Regions from separate parts of the Homo sapiens genome. Here region 2 is linked to region 1. The links come from fine-mapping of genetic effects on gene expression. A gene starts in region 1. The other region holds a variant in brackets. All regions are shown on one strand. Distances are from middle to middle. Region 1 holds the start of S1PR4 (sphingosine-1-phosphate receptor 4). Region 2 overlaps GNA15 (G protein subunit alpha 15).

Region 1 (9,237 bases):
TCAGCCTCCAGAGTAGCTGGGACTACAGGCACCCGCCACCACGCCTGGCTAATTCTTTGTATTTTTAGTAAAGATGGGGCTTCACCGTGTTAGCCAGGATGGTCTCTATCTCCTGACCTCGTGATCCGCCCACCTCGGCCTCCCAAAGTGCTGGGATTACAGGCGTGAGCCACGGCGCCCGGCCCCTCATCTCTTAAAATAAAAAAGGTTGAAGGAGTTGGGGGAGTTTGGATACAGACCCAGGGAGGGCGCCTTGTGGAGATGGAGGCAGAGATGCGGCTGACGCTTCTCCAAGCCAAGGAACATCAAGGACGCCGGCCACCAGCAGGAACTGGGAGAGGCCTGGGCAGATCCCCGTCAGCCTCAGGAGGACCCAGCCCTACTCACACCTTCATCTCAGACTTCTGGCTTCCAGAATTATGGCAGCATAAATGTCTGTTTTCAAGCCTCTCCATCTGTGAGACTGTCATGGCTGCCCTAGCAAATCAATACACTGAGAGACTAAATTTTTAACTTTCATTTAATTTCTTTTTTGTTGTTGTTTTTGTTTTGTTTTTTGAGACGGAGTCTCACTCTATCGCCCAGACTGGAGTGCAGTGGAGCAATCCCAGCTCACTGCAACCTCCACCCTCCGAGTTCAAGCGATTCTCCTGCCTCAGCCTCCCGAGTAGCTGGGATTACAGGCGCCTGCCACCGCACCCAGCTTATTTTTTGTATTTTTAGTAGAGACAGGGTTTCACCATCTTAGCCAGGCTGGTCTTGAACTCCTGACCTCATGATCCACCCACCTCGGCCCCCCAAAGTGCTGCGATTACAGGCATGAACCAATGCACCTGGCCTAACTTTCATTTAATTTCAATGAATTTTCTTTTTTTTTTTTTTTTAATTTTTTTTTAGAGACAGGGTCTCACTCTGTCACCCAGGCTGGCACGATCACCGCTCCCTGCAGCCTCGACCTCCCGGGCTCAAGTGATCCTCCCACCTCAGCCTCTCGAGTAGCTGGAACCACAGGCATGCAACAACATGCTCGGGCTAATTTTTTTAATTTTGGAGGATTTTTTTGTAGAGATGTGGTTTCGCTATGTTGCCCAGGCTGGTCTGGAACTCCTGCACTCAAGCAATCCTCCTGCCTCGGCCTCCCAAAGTGCTGGGATTACAGGCATGAGCCACCACACCCAGCAATTTCCATGAATTTTCAATAGCCGTGTGTGCCTCACAGCTGCTGTGTTGGTGGGTAAATGGCCCCCACACACCGCATTCCCCATCGTACAGTGGAGAAATAATGACTTAAAGCAGAACTTTCTGAGCCCAGGCGGCGGGTGGTGTGGATTCTGACTCTGCTCAGACACTGGACTGGACGGGACTGGCTTGGTCCTGGGAGAAGGTGGGCGAGAGCTGTCTATGAGCTGCAGGTGCTGGAGGCTTCCGGATTTACATCTGCACTGAAACTGTGGCCACCCGCCCCATGGGGCTACCGAAATATAAACAGATTCAAATTAAACACAACCTACACTTCGAAATTCAGTTATCTGCTTGCACCGTAGCCCCGTGGGGCTGGCGTCTCCCATACTGAATGGTGTGGAGCTGAAACGTCTCCACTGGAGTTTCACGGGGCAGGCAGTTGTCAGCCCCTGTGGCTGGCGGGGAGCGTGTACAATCAACCCTGTGCTTCGGCTTCAGTGATTAAACTGTTTTACCCACCGGGAAAGCCGAGGCCGTTCATGCTGAAGGGGATGTGAGGGAAGATTCCCCCAGCCCAGGAAGCCAAGGTGGTGCCTCTGCCAGCCCCAGAGAGTGGGTCCCCAAAAGATGCAGAGGCCAGAGATGGGGCATGGGCCCTGCCATTTCTAAAGGGGAAGTGAACAAGAAGAGGCGGCATTAACTGTCATTGTCACCCCCACTTCCCGCAACGCCCAGAGGTTGTCCACACACACACACACACACACACACACACACACACACTCCACCCTCACAGGGCACTGGCCCGTGGCCCTCTCTAGCAAAGACACACCCGGCTGCCCCTAGATCCACAGCCCCCCTGAGCCACGGCCCCCACGCATGCACGCACCAGGGAATAAGAGGCCGCAACATCACGTACCATGATCGAACTTCAATGTTGCCAGGGCATGCATCCCACAGTCCACCCCTTGCAGCCTGGGAGCCCTACTGAGGCCCAGAGAGGGGCCGGGACTTCCCCAGAATCACACAGAAGCGGGGTTGTGGGGAACCCACTCGCCCCCACACCAGGGTGCTCTCTGCTCCTACGGGGAGGTGGGGTGGTTGCCTCCTTGTCCAGGGTGACCATGGGAAGCCCATTTGGCGTCAGAAGCCCCGAGAGGCCACCGGGAAGACCATGGGGGCCTGTCCCGTTCCCTGCTCCCCATACAGGCGAGGCTGCGTGCACACAGCTTCCTGTACCCCAGGAGGGCCTGCCTGGCACGCACCCGGTGGCTGCACCATCCACACGCAAGACTGCAACTTCAGATGCTCCGCACGCTGGAGATGCTGGACAGGGGCTCCCGCATCCGAAAGCTGAGCGAGCGGGAGCCGCGAAAGCTGTCCCTTGGCCTCAGAGAGCTGTCGGTGGTGGAAGCTCCGGAGTGAGCCTCGACGGCCCGGGCCAGGCAGTCCCCGGGCCCTCGCATGCCCAGCCGGAGACACCCGCAGCAGAGGAAGCTGAGCACGGCTCTGCACACCTCCCTGCTGCGGAAGGAGTAGATGATGGGGTTGACCGCCGAGTTGAGGACGGCCAGGGCCAGGATCCAGTCCATGCCCCGCAGGTACTCCTGGGCCCAGAGGTTGGAGCCAAAGACGTCGGCCAGCAGCAGCCCGAAGAGTGGGCCCCAGCACACCAGGAAGGCCAGCAGGATCATCAGCACCGTCTTCAGCAGGCGGCGGGCCTTGCGGCGGGCCGCTGGGCGTGGGGCCTTCTGCCCGCTGGCCTGCACCAGGCGGAAGATGGCCCCATAGAGGCCCATGATGGTGGCCAGGACGCCGGCGAAGATCACCAGGCAGAAGAGGATGTAGCGCTTGGAGTAGAGGGGCAGAAGGCTGGAGCAGCGGTCAAAGGCGCACAGGCAGTTCCAGCCCAGCAAAGGCAGCATCCCCAGCAGCGCGGCCAGCAGCCAGCAGAGGCCGATGAAGCCGTAGACGCGGCTGGTCTTGGTGGCCCCGCTCTCGGCCACCGGCCGCACCATGGTGGCAAAGCGCTCCCCTGCAGTGAAGAGCAGGCTGAAGGTGGAGGCGGCCAGGGCGGTGAAGAGCAGGCCCTCCCGTAGGAACCACTGGGCGGGCGCCAGACGGAAGGTGCGGGCCCCCGACAGCAGCACGTTGGCCAGGTAGGCCGCGCCCGTGAGCAGGTCACTCAGCGTGATGTTCACCAGGCAATAGTAGACCCAGCGTCGCGACCGCATGTGGCTGGTGATGGCCGCCAGCACCAGCAAGTTCTCCAGCACCACCAGGCAGCTGGCGGCCACCGACAGCCCCCGCAGGGCCCCCAGGCCGCCATCCTCCGGCCCCCCGCGCCCGGCCAGCCGGCCCGAGTGGTTGTAGTGCAGAACAATGAGCCGGCTGTGCCCGCCGGCCGCCAGCTGTTGGCAGGACTCGGGGGCCACCGGGGTCCCCGTGGCGTTCATGGCCTCCCCCGGGGGCTGACTGAGGCCCGACGCAGGGTGGAGCCACCCGCCTTGCTGGTCTTGGTTTCCTGTTATTTGAAATTTCCTGTTATGTTCAAGGTGCCCTCCAGGGTGGAGGTAAGGCCGAGGACAGGGAGGGGCACCCCAACGGTCGGCCCCCACCCGGGCTCCTGGAGCCAACGCGCTGGGGCTGCCCTGGCTGTGAGGACCCCCACCCCTGCCCTGGCTGCCTTCTTCCTGTCCTCGAAAGCCGGAGACCCGCAGGGAGCCCCGGAGCCGTCAGTCACGGAGGGGAAATGAGTCCCCACTCGGGATGGGCCACCCCTTTCCAGCCGGACGACTCCTCCCCACCAGCCCTGATCACCCCCGAAGCACCCGTCGGCTCCACTGAGGTCTCCCCACATGCTCCACCGGCGCTCAGCACACAGCAGGTGCCTAATAAATGTCAAGTGCCTGCATGCCCTTGAGCACTGACTCATCCGACTTGATCCCCGAAACAGGGCCTGATGCGTTACAGAAGAGGAAACTGAGGCCCAGAGAGCCCGGTGCGTTGCAGAAGGGGAAACTGAGGCCCAGAGAGCCCGATGCGTTGCAGAAGGGGAAACTGAGGCCCAGAGAGCCCGATGCGTTGCAGAAGGGGAAACTGAGGCCCAGAGAGCCCGAGGCGTTGCAGAAGGGGAAACTGAGGCCCAGAGAGCCCGAGGCGTTGCAGAAGGGGAAACTGAGGCCCAGAGAGCCCGATGCGTTGCAGAAGGGGAAACTGAGGCCCAGAGAGCCCGATGCGTTGCAGAAGGGGAAACTGAGGCCCAGAGAGCCCGATGCGTTGCAGAAGGGGAAACTGAGGCCCAGAGAGCCCGAGGCGTTGCAGAAGGGGAAACTGAGGCCCAGAGAGCCCGAGGCGTTGCAGAAGGGGAAACTGAGGCCCAGAGAGCCCGATGCGTTGCAGAAGGGGAAACTGAGGCCCAGAGAGCCCGAGGCGTTGCAGAAGGGGAAACTGAGGCCCAGAGAGCCCGATGCGTTGCAGAAGGGGAAACTGAGGCCCAGAGAGCCCGATGCGTTGCAGAAGGGGAAACTGAGGCCCAGAGAGCCCGATGCGTTGCAGAAGGGGAAACTGAGGCCCAGAGAGCCTGATGCGTTACAGAAGGGAAAACTGAGGCCCACAAAGGCGGCCTGAGGCCAACTTTCTGCCCATGGGAGGACACACAGGTCCAGGGAGAGAGACCCCCAGGGACAAGCTGGTAGGGTCTCGGGGCCAGGCGCCCATTTTGGGATTCATGGTTGCCTCTCCTGCCCCTGAGCTCACCCTGCTGGGAGCAGAGCTGCTGGCCCCCTGGGGCAGCCCCCCACTGGGATTGAGGTGCATAGGAAAAGTAGGGACTTGCTCACCCCATCCCCATGGCCCTGCTGACAACGGCTCACGGTGACTCAGCCTGAGGTGAGGTGGCTGTGGGTCTAAGTGGGAGACACACCCTGCTCTGGCGTCTGAGGAGGGAGGCAGGCTCTGCCCTGGCGTCTGAGGGGGAAGCTTGGACCTGCCTGGGGTCTGAGGGGGGAGGGTTGGCCTTGCCCTAGGTTCTGAGAGGGGAGGCATGACCTTACCCTGGGGTCTGAGCGGAGAGGCTCAGCCTTGTCCTGGGGTCTGAGGAGGGATGCGAGGCCCTGTGCTGTGGTCTGAGAGGGGAGACACACCCTGCCCTGGGTCTGAGGAGGGAGGTATGCCCTGCCCTGAGGTTTGAGCGGGGAGGCTTGAACCTGCCTGGGGTCTAGGGGTGAGGGTTGGCCTTGCCTTGGGGTCTGAGTGGGGAGGCATGGCCCTGTCCTGAGTCTGAGGGGGGAGGCGAGGCCCTGCCTTGGGGTCTGAGGGGAGAGGTGAGGCCCTGTCCTGGGGTCCAAGGGAGGAGGCGAGGCCCTACCCTGAGGTCTGAGTGGGGATGCTCAGCCTTGCCCTGGGGTCTGAGGAGGGAGGCTCAGCCTTGCCCTGGGGTCTGGGGCATGTAGGGGCTTGGACATCATCTGTCACGGATGGAGTGTGAGGTCTCTGCTCTCCAGCTCCCCCAGTGTCTGTGACCCCCCACTCGTCCCCATCCAGAAGGCCTTGGGGTGTGGGGTGATTTGGGAAATAATGCAGGCCCCAGAAGTGTGAGTAGGACCCAGGATAAGTCCCTGCTGGGAGCCTCCTCCCGCCTGCAATCACCCCCAGGCCAGGCCCACTTACCACCAAGGAGGGTCCTGAGGGGCCCCACCTGCCCTCTGTCCCCCCAGGAGCCTGTGGTCTTCAGCCTTCCTGAGACAATGGTGTCCTTGGCCTCAGGGTGGGGGCAGCTACACTAATTCTACCAGTAAGGTGTCCTGGAAGGGTCACAAGTGTACTGCGAGGACACAGGTGTCCCATGAGGGGCACAGATGTCCCGTGAGGGCTCAGGTGTTGAAGGCCGAAAGAATGAGGGTTGTGATCAACTCAGTATACCACTGGAGGCTACGTGAGTAAACAGCAAACTGTTCTCATGAAAGCAGGCTGTTGGCAAACTGACAAACTGCGTCTGCCGCCCAGAAGGAATGCTGAGGGCAGTCACGCCCCAGGCACAAGTGTTTCTTGCAAGTAGGCAAATCTGAAACCTGTTAGCAATAACGTGAACGTGTGAACAATCAAGCAGCTGGCCAATCGTTTCCTCCCCCTGCTTTCTACCCAATAAGTACGAAGGGCTGTAGAAGCTTGGGGGGCTGCCTTTGCTCACTAGAAGCAGGGAGCTCTCTTTTTCTTCCCCTGGTCCCTTCCTTTAAAACAGTTTCTTCTGTCTTAAGTTTTCATTTCTACATTCGTCCCTTCGTTCAGTCTTGTAATGATGGTCTCAAGTAGTAACAATAGTAACTGTCGTAGTGACAGTCTCAGGTAGTAATCATGGCAACCACACACAGGCGTCCCATGAAGGGTACAGGCATCCCATGAGGGCACAGGTGTCCCATGAGAATGCAGGCGTCCCATGAGGGGCACAGGCATCCCATGAGAACACAGGCATCCCATGAGGGGCACAGGCGTCCCATGAGGGTACAGGCATCCCATGAGGGCACAGGTGTCCCATGAGAATGCAGGCGTCCCATGAGGGCACAGGCATCCCATGAGGGGCACAGGCATCCCATGAGAGCACAGATGTCCCATGAGGGGTACAGGCGTCCCATGAGGGTACAGGCATCCCATGAGAACACAGGCGTCCCATGAGGGGTACAGGCATCCCATGAGGGCACAGGCATCCCATGAGAACACAGGTGTCCCATGAGAACACAGGTGTCCCATGAGGGCACAGGCGTCCCATGAGAATGCAGGCGTCCCATGAGAACGCAGGCGTCCCATGAGGGCACAGGCGTCCCATGAGGGCACAGGTGTCCCATGAGGGGCACAGGCGTCCCATGAGAACACAGGCGTCCCATGAGGGGCACAGGCGTCCCATGAGAACACAGGCGTCCCATGAGGGCACAGGCGTCCCGTGAGAACACAGGTGTCCCATGAGGGGCACAGGCGTCCCATGAGAACACAGGCGTCCCATGAGGGCACAGGCGTCCCATGAGAACACAGGTGTCCCATGAGGGGCACAGGCGTCCCATGAGAACACAGGCGTCCCATGAGGGCACAGGCGTCCCATGAGAACACAGGTGTCCCATGAGGGGCACAGGCGTCCCATGAGAACACAGGCGTCCCATGAGGGCACAGGCGTCCCATGAGGGGCACAGGCGTCCCATGAGAACACAGGCGTCCCATGAGGGCACAGGCGTCCCATGAGGGCACAGGTGTCCCATGAGGGGCACAGGCGTCCCATGAGAACACAGGCGTCCCATGAGGGGCACAGGCGTCCCATGAGAACACAGGCGTCCCATGAGGGCACAGGCGTCCCATGAGAACACAGGCGTCCCATGAGGGGCACAGGCGTCCCATGAGAACACAGGCGTCCCATGAGAACACAGGCGTCCCATGAGGGCACAGGCGTCCCATGAGGGCACAGGCGTCCCATGAGAACACAGGCGTCCCATGAGGGCACAGGCGTCCCATGAGGGCACAGGCGTCCCATGAGAACACAGGCGTCCCATGAGGGCACAGGCGTCCCATGAGGGCACAGGCGTCCCATGAGGGCACAGGCGTCCCATGAGAACACAGGCGTCCCATGAGGGGCACAGGCGTCCCATGAGAACACAGGCGTCCCATGAGGGCACAGGCGTCCCATGAGGGGCACAGGCGTCCCATGAGAACACAGGCGTCCCATGAGGGCACAGGCGTCCCATGAGGGCACAGGCGTCCCATGAGAACACAGGCGTCCCATGAGGGCACAGGCGTCCCATGAGAACACAGGCGTCCCATGAGGGCACAGGTGTCCCATGAGAACACAGGCGTCCCATGAGAACACAGGTGTCCCATGAGGGCACAGGTGTCCCATGAGAATTCAGGCGTCCCATGCGGGGCACGGGCATCCCATGAGAACACAGGCATCCCATGAGGGGCACAGGCGTCCCATGAGGGTACAGGCATCCCATGAGAACACAGGCGTCCCATGAGGGCACAGGCATCCCATGAGGGGCACAGGCATCCCATGAGGGCACAGATGTCCCATGAGGGGTACAGGCGTCCCATGAGGGTACAGGCATCCCATGAGAACACAGGCGTCCCATGAGGGGTACAGGCATCCCATGAGGGCACAGGCATCCCATGAGAACACAGGTGTCCCATGAGAACACAGGTGTCCCATGAGGGCACAGGCGTCCCATGAGAATGCAGGCGTCCCATGAGAACACAGGTGTCCCATGAGGGCACAGGCGTCCCATGAGGGCACAGGCGTCCCATGAGAACACAGGTGTCCCATGAGAGGCACAGGCGTCCCATGAGAACACAGGCGTCCCATGAGGGCACAGGCGTCCCATGAGAACACAGGTGTCCCATGAGGGGCACAGGCGTCCCATGAGAACACAGGCGTCCCATGAGGGCACAGGCGTCCCATGAGAACACAGGCGTCCCATGAGGGGCACAGGCGTCCCATGAGAACACAGGCGTCCCATGAGGGCACAGGAGTCCCATGAGAACACAGGCGTCCCATGAGGGGCACAGGCGTCCCATGAGAACACAGGCGTCCCATGAGGGCACAGGCGTCCCATGAGGGCACAGGCGTCCCATGAGGGGCACAGGCGTCCCATGAGAACACAGGCGTCCCATGAGGGCACAGGCGTCCCATGAGGGCACAGGCGTCCCATGAGGGGCACAGGCGTCCCATGAGAACACAGGCGTCCCATGAGGGCACAGGCATCCCATGAGGGCACAGGCATCCCATGAGGGCACAGGCGTCCCATGAGAACACAGGCGTCCCATGAGGGCACAGGCGTCCCATGAGAACACAGGCGTCCCATGAGAACACAGGCATCCCATGAGGTCACAGGCGTCCCATGAGGGCACAGGCATCCCATGAGGGCACAGGCGTCCCATGAGAACACAGGCGTCCCATGAGGGCACAGGTGTCCCATGAGAACACAGGTGTCCCATGAGGGCACAGGCATCCCATGAGGGGCACAGGCATCCCATGAGAACACAGGCATCCCATGAGGGGCACAGGCGTCCCATGAGAAC
Region 2 (9,410 bases), 33 kb after region 1:
GTGCACACGTGTGCACGTGTGTGCATTCATTTGTGTATGTGTGTGGGTGTGTGCATGTGGGCATGCGTGTGTATCTTTGTGAGCATGTACGTGTGTGTCCTTGTGTGCATGTCTGTGCGTGTGCATACATGTGCGTGTGTGCATTTATGCGTGTATACTTGTGTGTGCACTTGTATGTATGCACATATGTCTGGAGGACATGGCCTTGCCCCAGGGTCTGGGGACCCTTCCCTGCCTGCCCTGCCCTGCCCTGCCCTGCCCTGAAGTCTGGGGAACTTGGCCCTGCTCCGGGGTCTGGGGAACCCTGCCCTGGGCCCCTGCCTGCCCTGGGCCCCTGCCTGCCCTGGCGGCTCACCTTGCTCTCGGGCCTGCTGAATGGAATCTGCAGCCGCTCCATGGCCTCGATCATGGCCCGCATGGACACGAAGATGTTCTGGTAGACCAGGGGCCGGAAGCCCTTGCGCTCCTCCTCCGAGTAGCCGGCGCCGTGGATGATCCGCATCTGCTTGATGAAGGTGCTCTTCCCGCTCTCGCCTGGGCCTGGGGATGGAGCAGCAGAACCGCTCAGCCCTCCACGGGACTCCCACCCCCGACACCCCCAACCCCACGTCAGACACCCCCAACTCCACGCCAGGCCTCCTGGGTTCAAACCCCGGTGCAGCCGGGACCTCACTCAGTGACCCTAGGCTAGCGGCTTTGCCGCTCTGTGCCTTGGTTTCCCCATCTGTAAAACATGAACCTCAGGCTGGGCACGGTGGCTCATGCCTGTAGTCCCAGCACTTTGGGAGGCTGAGGCAGGCGGATCACCTGAGGTCAGGAGTTAGAGACCAACCTGGTAAACATGGCGAAACCCCATCTCTATTAAAAATACAAAATTAGCCGGGTGTGGTGGCTCACGCCTGTAATCCCAGCTACGCAGGAGGCTGAGGCAGGAGAATCGCTTGAACCTGGGAGGCAGAGATTGCAGTGAGCTGAGATCACACCATTGTACTCCAGCCTGAGCGACAGGGCGAGATTCTGTCTCAAAAAAAAACAAAACAAACAAACAAAAAAAACAAAACATGGACCTCAACAGACCATGCCTGCTGCATCAAACTGAGGGCCAAATGAATTGATTATAAAATGCTCACGGTAAGGGTCGCAAACTCCGGCTGCTTGAGGGCCAGATCCAGTTATCTTTGTGTGGCCAGAAAGTTTTTGTTTGTTTTTGTTTTCTTTTTCTCTTCTTTTTTTTTTTTTTTTTGAGATGGAGTCTTGCTCTGTCACCCAGGCTGGAGTGCAGTGGCGCGACCTCGGCTCACTGCAAGCTCCGTCTCCCGGGTTCACACCATTCTCCTGCCTCAGCCTCTCTGAGTAGCTGGGACTACAGGCACCCGCCACCACGCCCGGCTAATTTTTTTGTATTTTTAGTAGAGACGGGGTTTCACCGTGGTCTTGACCTCGTGATCCACCCGCCTCGGCCTCCCAAAGTGCTGGGATTACAAGCGTGAGCCACCGCGCCTGGCCAGTTTTTGTGTTTTTAATACTTTTTATGGTTATGGTTCTTATGGGTTTTTTTCTTTTTTCTTTTTTTCTTTTTTTTTAGACAGATTCTCTGTTGCCCAGGCTGGAGTGCAATGGCGCAATCTCAGCTCACTGCAACCTCTGGCTCCCAGGTTCAAGTGATTCTCCTCCCTCAGCCTCCCAAGTAGCTGGGGTAACAGGCGCGTGCCACCACGCCTAGTTAATTTTTGTATTTTTAGTACAGCTGTGGTTTCACCATGTTAGCCAGGCTGGTCTCAAATTCCTGGGCTCAAGTGATCCGTCTGCCTCGGCCTCCCAAAGTGCTGGGATTACAGGCGTGAGCCACCGTGCCTGGCCTATTTTTATTATTTATCATAACAATACTAATATGTATTATTATTTGCTACAATAATTTCAGGTAGAGAAACTTTTACGAAAGAAATAACATAGGATAAATAGGGCAAGGAGTAATTAGGTGACTACGATAGCCACGCAGTCAAGGAAGGCCTCTCAGTGGAAGTGATTTGTGAGCAGTCAAGGAAGGCCTCTCAGTGAAAGTGATTTGTGAAGGCCGGAAGGTGGCTGTCAAAATCTTAGAGGGCACACCAGGTGACAGTAACAGCTTGTGCAAAGGCCCTGGGGCAGGGCCGCACCTGGCATATTGGAGGAACAGTGAGGAGGCCCTTGTGGCTGGAGCAGAGTGAGGAGGGGGAGAGAGGAAGGAGGGGAGGGTGGGTTGTGCTGGGCCTTGTGGGTTGCAGGGAAGTCTTGGGCTTTGACCCTGAGGGACTTGGGAGCCATGGAGGGCTGTGGGCAGAGGAGGGACTGGCCCTGACTCAGGTGCTCACAGGCGCCCTCTGGTGGCTGCTGCAGGGAGGACAGGCTGTGGGGGGTGGTCTGGGGGAGCCCGGACCAGGGCAGTGGGGACTGCGTTGGTTCAGGTGAGCAACCGTGGGGCTGGACCAATGTGGCTGTCATGGAGCTGGAGAGGAGAGGACATATTTGAGAGACACTGGGGAGACAGAATCGACCTGACCTTGCTGACAGATGGTACAAAATCTGGCAGGGTCCTTGCAGGGCCAGCCACAGATTTTCTGGGGCTGGGTGCAAGCTGAAACTTCAGGCTCTTCTGAGCCTGGAACCCTCTGGGACAGCCCAGTTCGCGCACCTGCCAAACCGGCCCTGGGTCCGGGATACTGATGCTGGAGTCTTCAAGAGCCTGGGACTAGAGGTTCAAAGACACCAGCTCAGCCCCCCGCTAAGCTCTGACATCCCAAGGCTGCCCTTCCCCCTCTCTGTGTCTCAATTTTCTCATCTGTAAAATGGGTATGATCCACCAGGTGGGAGGTGGGGGCTGGAGGCTTGCCCAGCATCTCGTCTGGCTCCTGGGGGCACCAGCATGGGCCCCAACCAGCGATGGGAGAGGGGATGGGACTGCTTCTGCCTCCAGGGTTGGCGTGCAGAGGGCGGGGGTAGGGGTCGGTGCAGGCAGGACTTGATCGAGCAAGCGGCAGCAAAAAGGGAAGGAGTGGCTTGGTTGGGGCCCAGAAAGAGGAAATGGGAGCAGAGGAGAAGGCCGGAGCACGGAGAAGGGGCGGGGGTGTCACCTCCCATCTCCCCAAAGGGCTGTCTCCAACGCCTCCAACTCCACCTAGCAGGTGCCACCTGCACACTGGAGAGCCATGGGGGCAGGTCGGGGGTGGCCGCCTCGACTCTCCAGTCCTCAGTTTCTCCAGGGGTCATGTCTATTTGGCTCAAAGTCAAGAAACAGGCTTTTCTCGGCTGGGCACAGTGGCTCACGCCTATAATCTCCGCACTTTGGGAGGCTGAGGTGGCCAGATCACTTGAGGTCAGGAGTTCGAGACCAGCCTGGCCAACACGGTGAAACTCTGTCTCTACTAAATATACAAAAATTAGCGGGGCATGCTGGTGGGCGCCTGTAATCCCAGCTATTCGGGAGGCTGAGGCAGAAGAATTGCTTGAACTCGAGGCAGAGGTTGCAGTGAGCTGAGATCGTGCCACTACACTCCAGCCTGGGTGACAGAGTGAGACTCTATCTCAAAAATAAAAAAATAAAAAAAGGTACCAGGTCTGCAACTTAGTCAAAAATGGTTCAGAAAACAGTGTATATGCTTGGGCATGGTGTAGCGGCTCATGCCTATAAATCCAGTGCTTTGGGAAGCTAAGGGAGGGGGGCGGCTTGGGCCAAGGAGTTCAAGACCACCCTGGGCAACATAGTGAGACCCCATCTCTACAAAAAAAAAAAAATATATATATATATATATATATATTTAGTCAGACGTAGTGGTGCACACTGGTAGTTACAGCTACTCATGAAGCTGAGGTAGGAGGATCATTTGAGCCCAGGAGGTTGAGGCTGCAGTGAGCCATGATCACACCACTGCACTCCAGCCTGGGTGACAGAACAAGACCTTGTCTCAAAAAAAAAAGTTTCCAAAAAAAATTAAAAACTAGGGCTGGGCGCAGTGGCTCATGCCTGTAATCCCAGCACTTTGGGAAGCTGAGGCAGGCAGATCACCAGGTCAGGAGTTCGAGACCAGCCTGACCAACATGGTGAAACCCTGTCTCTACTAAAAATACAAAAACCCTGTCTCTACTAAAAATACAAAAATTAGCTGGGCATGGTGGCGCGCACCTGTAATCCCAGCTACACAGGAGGCTGAGGCAGGAGAATTGCTTGAACCTGGGAGGCGGAGGCTGCAGTGAGCCGAGATCATGCCACTGCACTCCAACCTGGGTGACAGAGCCAGACTCTGTCTCAAAAAAAATAAAAATAAAGGGCCGGGCCCGGTGGCTCACGCCTGTAATCTCAGCACTATGGGAGGCCAAGGCGGGCGGATCACGAGGTCAGGAGATCGAGACCATCCTGGCTAACACGGTGAAACCCC[G/A]TCTCTACTAAAAATACAAAAAATTAACCGGGCATGGTGGCGGGCGCCTGTAGTTCCAGCTACTTGGGAGGCTGAGGCAGGAGAATGGCGTGAACCGGGGAGGCGGAGCTTGCAATGAGCCGAGATCATGCCACTGCACTCCAGCCTGGGTGACAGAGCGAGACTCCGACTCAAAAAAAAATAAATAAAATATAAATAAATAAATAAACAAACAAACTACTCAAACGACAACATCCCCCAGGTCCACAATCTGAAATTCTCTGATGCAGAGCTGTGAGAGCTTCAGATTCCAGAATTTATTGCATGTTAGGATGGGGACATGTCAACTCACTAATATTCCTGCAGCGGAATGTAGGAATGGGAGTCAGTGCAATAAACAAACATCCTCCCACCCGTTTCTTTGAGTTTCTCATGGAGACACTATGGGGGACCATCAAGTTTTTGGAGCTTTGGCTATTTGGGGCTAGTAGCAGAGGGAATTGTGAGCTTGCTGGCCCTTGACTGGGTGTCCCTGGTGAGCTAAGAGCTGGAGTCCCACCATCTGTCCTGAGCCTCACCACGAGAGGGGGACAACTCTTTTTTTTTTTTTTTGAGAGGGAGTCTTTCTTGCTCTATCGCCCAGGCTGGAGTGCAGTGTCGCGATCTCGGCTCACTGTAAGCTCCACCTCCCGGGTTCACGCCATTCTCCTGCCTCAGCCTCCCAAGCAGCTGGGACGACAGGCGCCCACCACCATGCCCAGCTAATTTTTTTTGTTTTTTTTTAGTAGAGACGGGGTTTCACCATGTTAGCCAGGATGGTCTCGATCTCCTGACCTTGTGATCCACCCGCCTCGTCCTCCCAAAGTGCTGGGATTACAGGCGTGAGCCACTGCGCCTGGCCAAGAGAGGGACAACTCTTAGCCCTGTTTCCATGTGGGGAAACTCAGTCTCGGGGCCGTTGAGGGAATTGCTGTGGGTCGCACAATTCCTTCAATGGTCCTGGTGAGTGGCAGACTGGGATTCAAACTCAGTTCTGTTTGAGTCTAGAGCCTATGGGCTTTTATTTTTTATTATTATTATTATTTTTGAGACAGGGTCTCACTCTGTCACCCAGGCTAGAGTGCAGTGGCTTGATATTGGCTCACTGCAACCTCCACCTCATGGGTTTCAAGCGATTCTCCTGCCTCAACCTCCAGACTAGCTGTCATTACAGGTGTGCACCACCGTGTCCGGCTAATTTTTGTATTTTTAGTAGAGACAGGGTTTTGCCATTTTGGCCAGGCTGGTCTCGAACTCCTGGCCTCAAGGGATCCACTTGCCTTGGCCTCCCAAAGTACTGGGATTACAGGCATGAGCCACCTTGAGCTTATGGGTTTCTAAATTATTATACCTGGAGGTTCCTTTACCCTGCCTGAATGATTATAACAATCATAATAAAAATCACAGCTAGCATGATTTAAATCTTACCGTCTTCCCAACCCCGAGCCCAGAGACTCTACGGATCCCCAGTTAATCCTCACAGATTCTATGATTTTCCCATTTGCAGATGAGACACAGAGGACCAGAGAGGTTTAGTGACTTAATTTGGGTCACACAGCAAGTGGAACCCCAGGGGAGTAAACTTGGGGTCGTGTGAGTCCTTCACCAACAAAATGGGACACGGCCAGTCGAGCTGGGGTAGGTGTCATTAACACGTCTGTTAAAGCAATGTTTTTACAGAGTCTGGGAGGCTCGACAGCTCCTTGGGGTGTGGCATTGAGCCCAACTGCCGATGACTGGACTTTTTGAGCTCCTGTCCCCCAATTGCCTTCCAACCCTCAGATCTTCTTCTTCCTTTTTTTTACTTTTTGTTTTTATTTTTATTTTTTGATATAGAGTCTGGCTCTGTCACACAGACTGGAGTGCAATGGTGTGATCTCAGCACACCGCAACCTCCTCCTCCCAGGTTCAAGCGATTCTCCTGCCTCAGCCTCCCAGGCAGCTGGGATTAGAGGCGTGCACCACCACACCCGGCTAATTTTTGTGTTTTTAGTAGAGACGAGGTTTCACCATGTTGGCCAGACTGGTCTTGAACTCCTGGCCTCAAGTGATCCACCCCTCCTCAGCCTCCCAAAGTGCTGGGATGACAGGCCTGAGCCACCGCGCCCAGCCAGGACTGGACCTTTTGGGCTCCTGTCCCCCAGTTGTCTTCCAACTCTCAGATCTTAGTTTGCCCCAAAGTGCAGAGAACAAACATAAGTCTTGGCAAGCAACAGTTGGCTTTATTTTGTGATGCACTGATTTTTTTTTCCTCTTCTGCTTTGTTATAGGAAATAAATGATAATCCTGTTGCCACCCGCGACACAGATTTGATGACTCAGGGATGGGTCATCACCCGAAGCCTGAAGAGCTGCGTGAGAACCCCCTCTTTGCAATCCATTGCTGTCCTGAAGCCACAAAGGATTCTGGGACCTCTCCATTGCCCCCCGACCCCCAGACATCCCCCAGCTCCTGGATAGAAATGGTGGGAGTGATCTGTTTTAGGATACCCCCAAAGGCCATGCGGCCCAGACGGGAAGTTCCTGCTTCCTCCTGGGCACGGAGGAGGACAGGAGGAAGTGGAACCGGCAGATGCCAGGAAGGAACTGGGTTAACCGTGCCAAGCCCCAGTCATCACAAGGCAACTGGAGCCAGCTATGTGCACAGAGTCCAGCACCAGGCCCTCACAGGAAACGCAGCTGCTGGGGAAGTGGGGAGCCAGGCCAGGCAGCCGCAGGGGCAGGAGGCTCGGCCTCTCAGTCCCGCTCTGGCTCAAACTAGCTGCTGACCCCCAATCAATCCTGCTGCCTCCTTGGGCCTCATTTTCCCCATCTGGCACTGGGGTTCTGTGGTGTTTCTGTCCCCCAAGGCAGGCGAACAGGGCAGTCAGGAGCATGGACTTTGGAACCAGAATTCTAGGTGCGAGTCTCAGCTGTGTGACCTTGGGCAAGTCGCTCTGCCTCTCTGAGCCTCAGTTTATCCTTTGGGGGAAACTAGGAGTGCCTGCCTCAAAGTGCTAAGAACAGGCCGGGCACAATGGCTCACATCTCTAATCTCGTCACTTTGGGGAGGCCAAGGCAGATGGATCACCTGAGGTCAGGAGTTCGAGACCAGCCTGGCTAACATGGTGAAACCCCGTCTCTACTAAAAATACAAAAATTAGCTGGGCATGATGGTGCACACTTGTAGTCCCAGCTACTCAGGAAGCTGAGGCAAGAGGATTGCTTGAACCCAGGAGGCAAAGGTTGCCGTGAGCCGAGATCGCACCACTGCACTCCAACCGGGGTGATAGAGTAAGACTCTGTCTCAAAAATAAAAATAAAAAATAAAATGTTTAAAGTGCTAAGGACATAACTGGTCCCTTTCACAGCTTTATTTTCCTGTTTTTGTTGTTGTTCACTTTCTTTTCTTTTCTTTTTTTGTTTTTGTTTAGAGACTGGGTCTCGCAATGTTGTCCAGGCTGGTCTTGAACTCCTGGGCTCAAGCAATCCTCCTGCCTTAGCCTCCCGAGTAACTGGGACTACAGGTATGTGCCACCATACCCGGCTCACGGCTTCATTCTGACTCTCCCCCTTCCCCAATATGAGGGTTGCTTCATGTCAGGGACAGACCCACCCCCACCCTGGTCCTTTTTGCCATCTTCCTCAAAAGGATCAGCCACCTCCAGGTAAAAAAAAAACAGCTTTTGGATTCAATTCCTGTTTCCAAGAAGGGACAGAGGTCTGGAGGTTGCCCTCAGACCTGTCTCCAGGGATGAGGTGGTTTAAACCACAGTCCACAGTGCTACATCAGTGCCTGGGGACATGGATGTCATCCCCTGCCCTCCATCAGTAGAAGGGGCTTCCTGCTTTGAGGCTGGCTGAGTAGTGCCCAGAGTGGTATGTGGAAGGGACTTTCCCAGCTCCAGGAAGATATGATACAGTGTCTGGGGGAAGTTCTCCCCAAAAATGATTCATTCATTCATTCATTCATTCATTCAGCATTTCTTGAGCATCTACTATATGGCAGGCTCATTGTACACCTGTGCTAGATGCTGGAGACACAGGGATGAAGAAGACAGATGTGGTCCCTACCCTTTTGTTGCTTGCTGTATAGCTGGAGAGATAAACAATAAACAAGTGAACAAATAGTGAGGGCCAGGAAGAAAAATCAAACAGAGTAAGGGGAAGGAGAAGATAGGACTGTCTTTATAGCTAGGGTAGTCAGGGAAGACTTCTCTGAGGAGGCGACACTTGGGTTGAGACCTACATGGAGTGAAAGGGCCAGCCAGGCAAAGGTCAGGGATAAATGACCTTGAGGTATTCGAGGAAAGAGCACTAAAAGTGATAAACCCCTAGCTTGATAGATCAAGAAAAAAATGAGCAAAGGCAGAAATGATCGATACCAAGAGCAAAAGAGAGGACATCACTGCAGATCCTACAGACAGTAGCAGGAGAACAAGGGAACGTTATAAATGTTATGCCAATAAATTTGATAACACAGGCAAAATGGACAAATTATTTGAAAGACACAAATGATCAAAACCCACACAAGAAGAAGTAGATAGCCTAAGTAGCCCTATTTATTTAAAATAATAAGACATATCGATATGATACGTCATAATGTGACATAATATGACACATTAATATGTCAAATATAGATAGATAGATAGATAGATAGATAGATAGATAGATAGATTTTTTTTTTTTGAGATGGAGTTTCACTCTTATTGCCTAGGCTGGAGTTCAGTGGTGTGATCTTGGCTCACTGCAACCTCTGCCTCCAAGTTAGAGCAATTCTCCTGCCTCACCCTCCCAAGTAGCTGGGACTACAGGTGCGCACCACCACGCCTGGCTAATTTTTGTATTTTTAGTAGAGATGGGGTTTCACCACATTAGCCAGGATGGTCTCCATCTCCTGACCTCGTGATCCACCCTCCTCGGCCCCCCAAAGTGCTGTGATTGCAGGCGTGAGCCACCGCACCCAGCCCTGATTTTTTATATTTTTAGTAGAGACGGGGTT

The links.
Region 2: its variant is fine-mapped to the expression of S1PR4 in whole blood (INTERVAL, PIP above 0.99).

The regions. Positions count from the first base shown.
Region 1 is chr19:3,173,191-3,182,427 of GRCh38, reverse strand. S1PR4 (sphingosine-1-phosphate receptor 4) reads right to left here and starts at 3,659. Exons shown (of 1, transcript NM_003775.4): 1 at 2,096-3,659. The coding sequence starts at 3,635. The coding sequence ends at 2,481. RefSeq lists enhancers at 1,412-1,461, 2,072-2,301, 2,342-2,521, 2,562-3,211, 4,795-5,677 and a silencer at 3,442-3,991.
Region 2 is chr19:3,139,721-3,149,130 of GRCh38, reverse strand. It overlaps GNA15 (G protein subunit alpha 15), which reads right to left. Exons shown (of 7, transcript NM_002068.4): 2 at 356-540. It overlaps GNA15-DT (GNA15 divergent transcript), which reads left to right. Exons shown (of 4, transcript NR_110670.1): 2 at 1-515; 3 at 5,938-6,068; 4 at 6,701-7,555. Among named protein-coding and RNA genes, the nearest start is that of GNA15, 8.4 kb to the right of the region's middle. RefSeq lists an enhancer at 7,085-7,585. The variant G/A (reference allele first, on the strand shown) is at 4,413.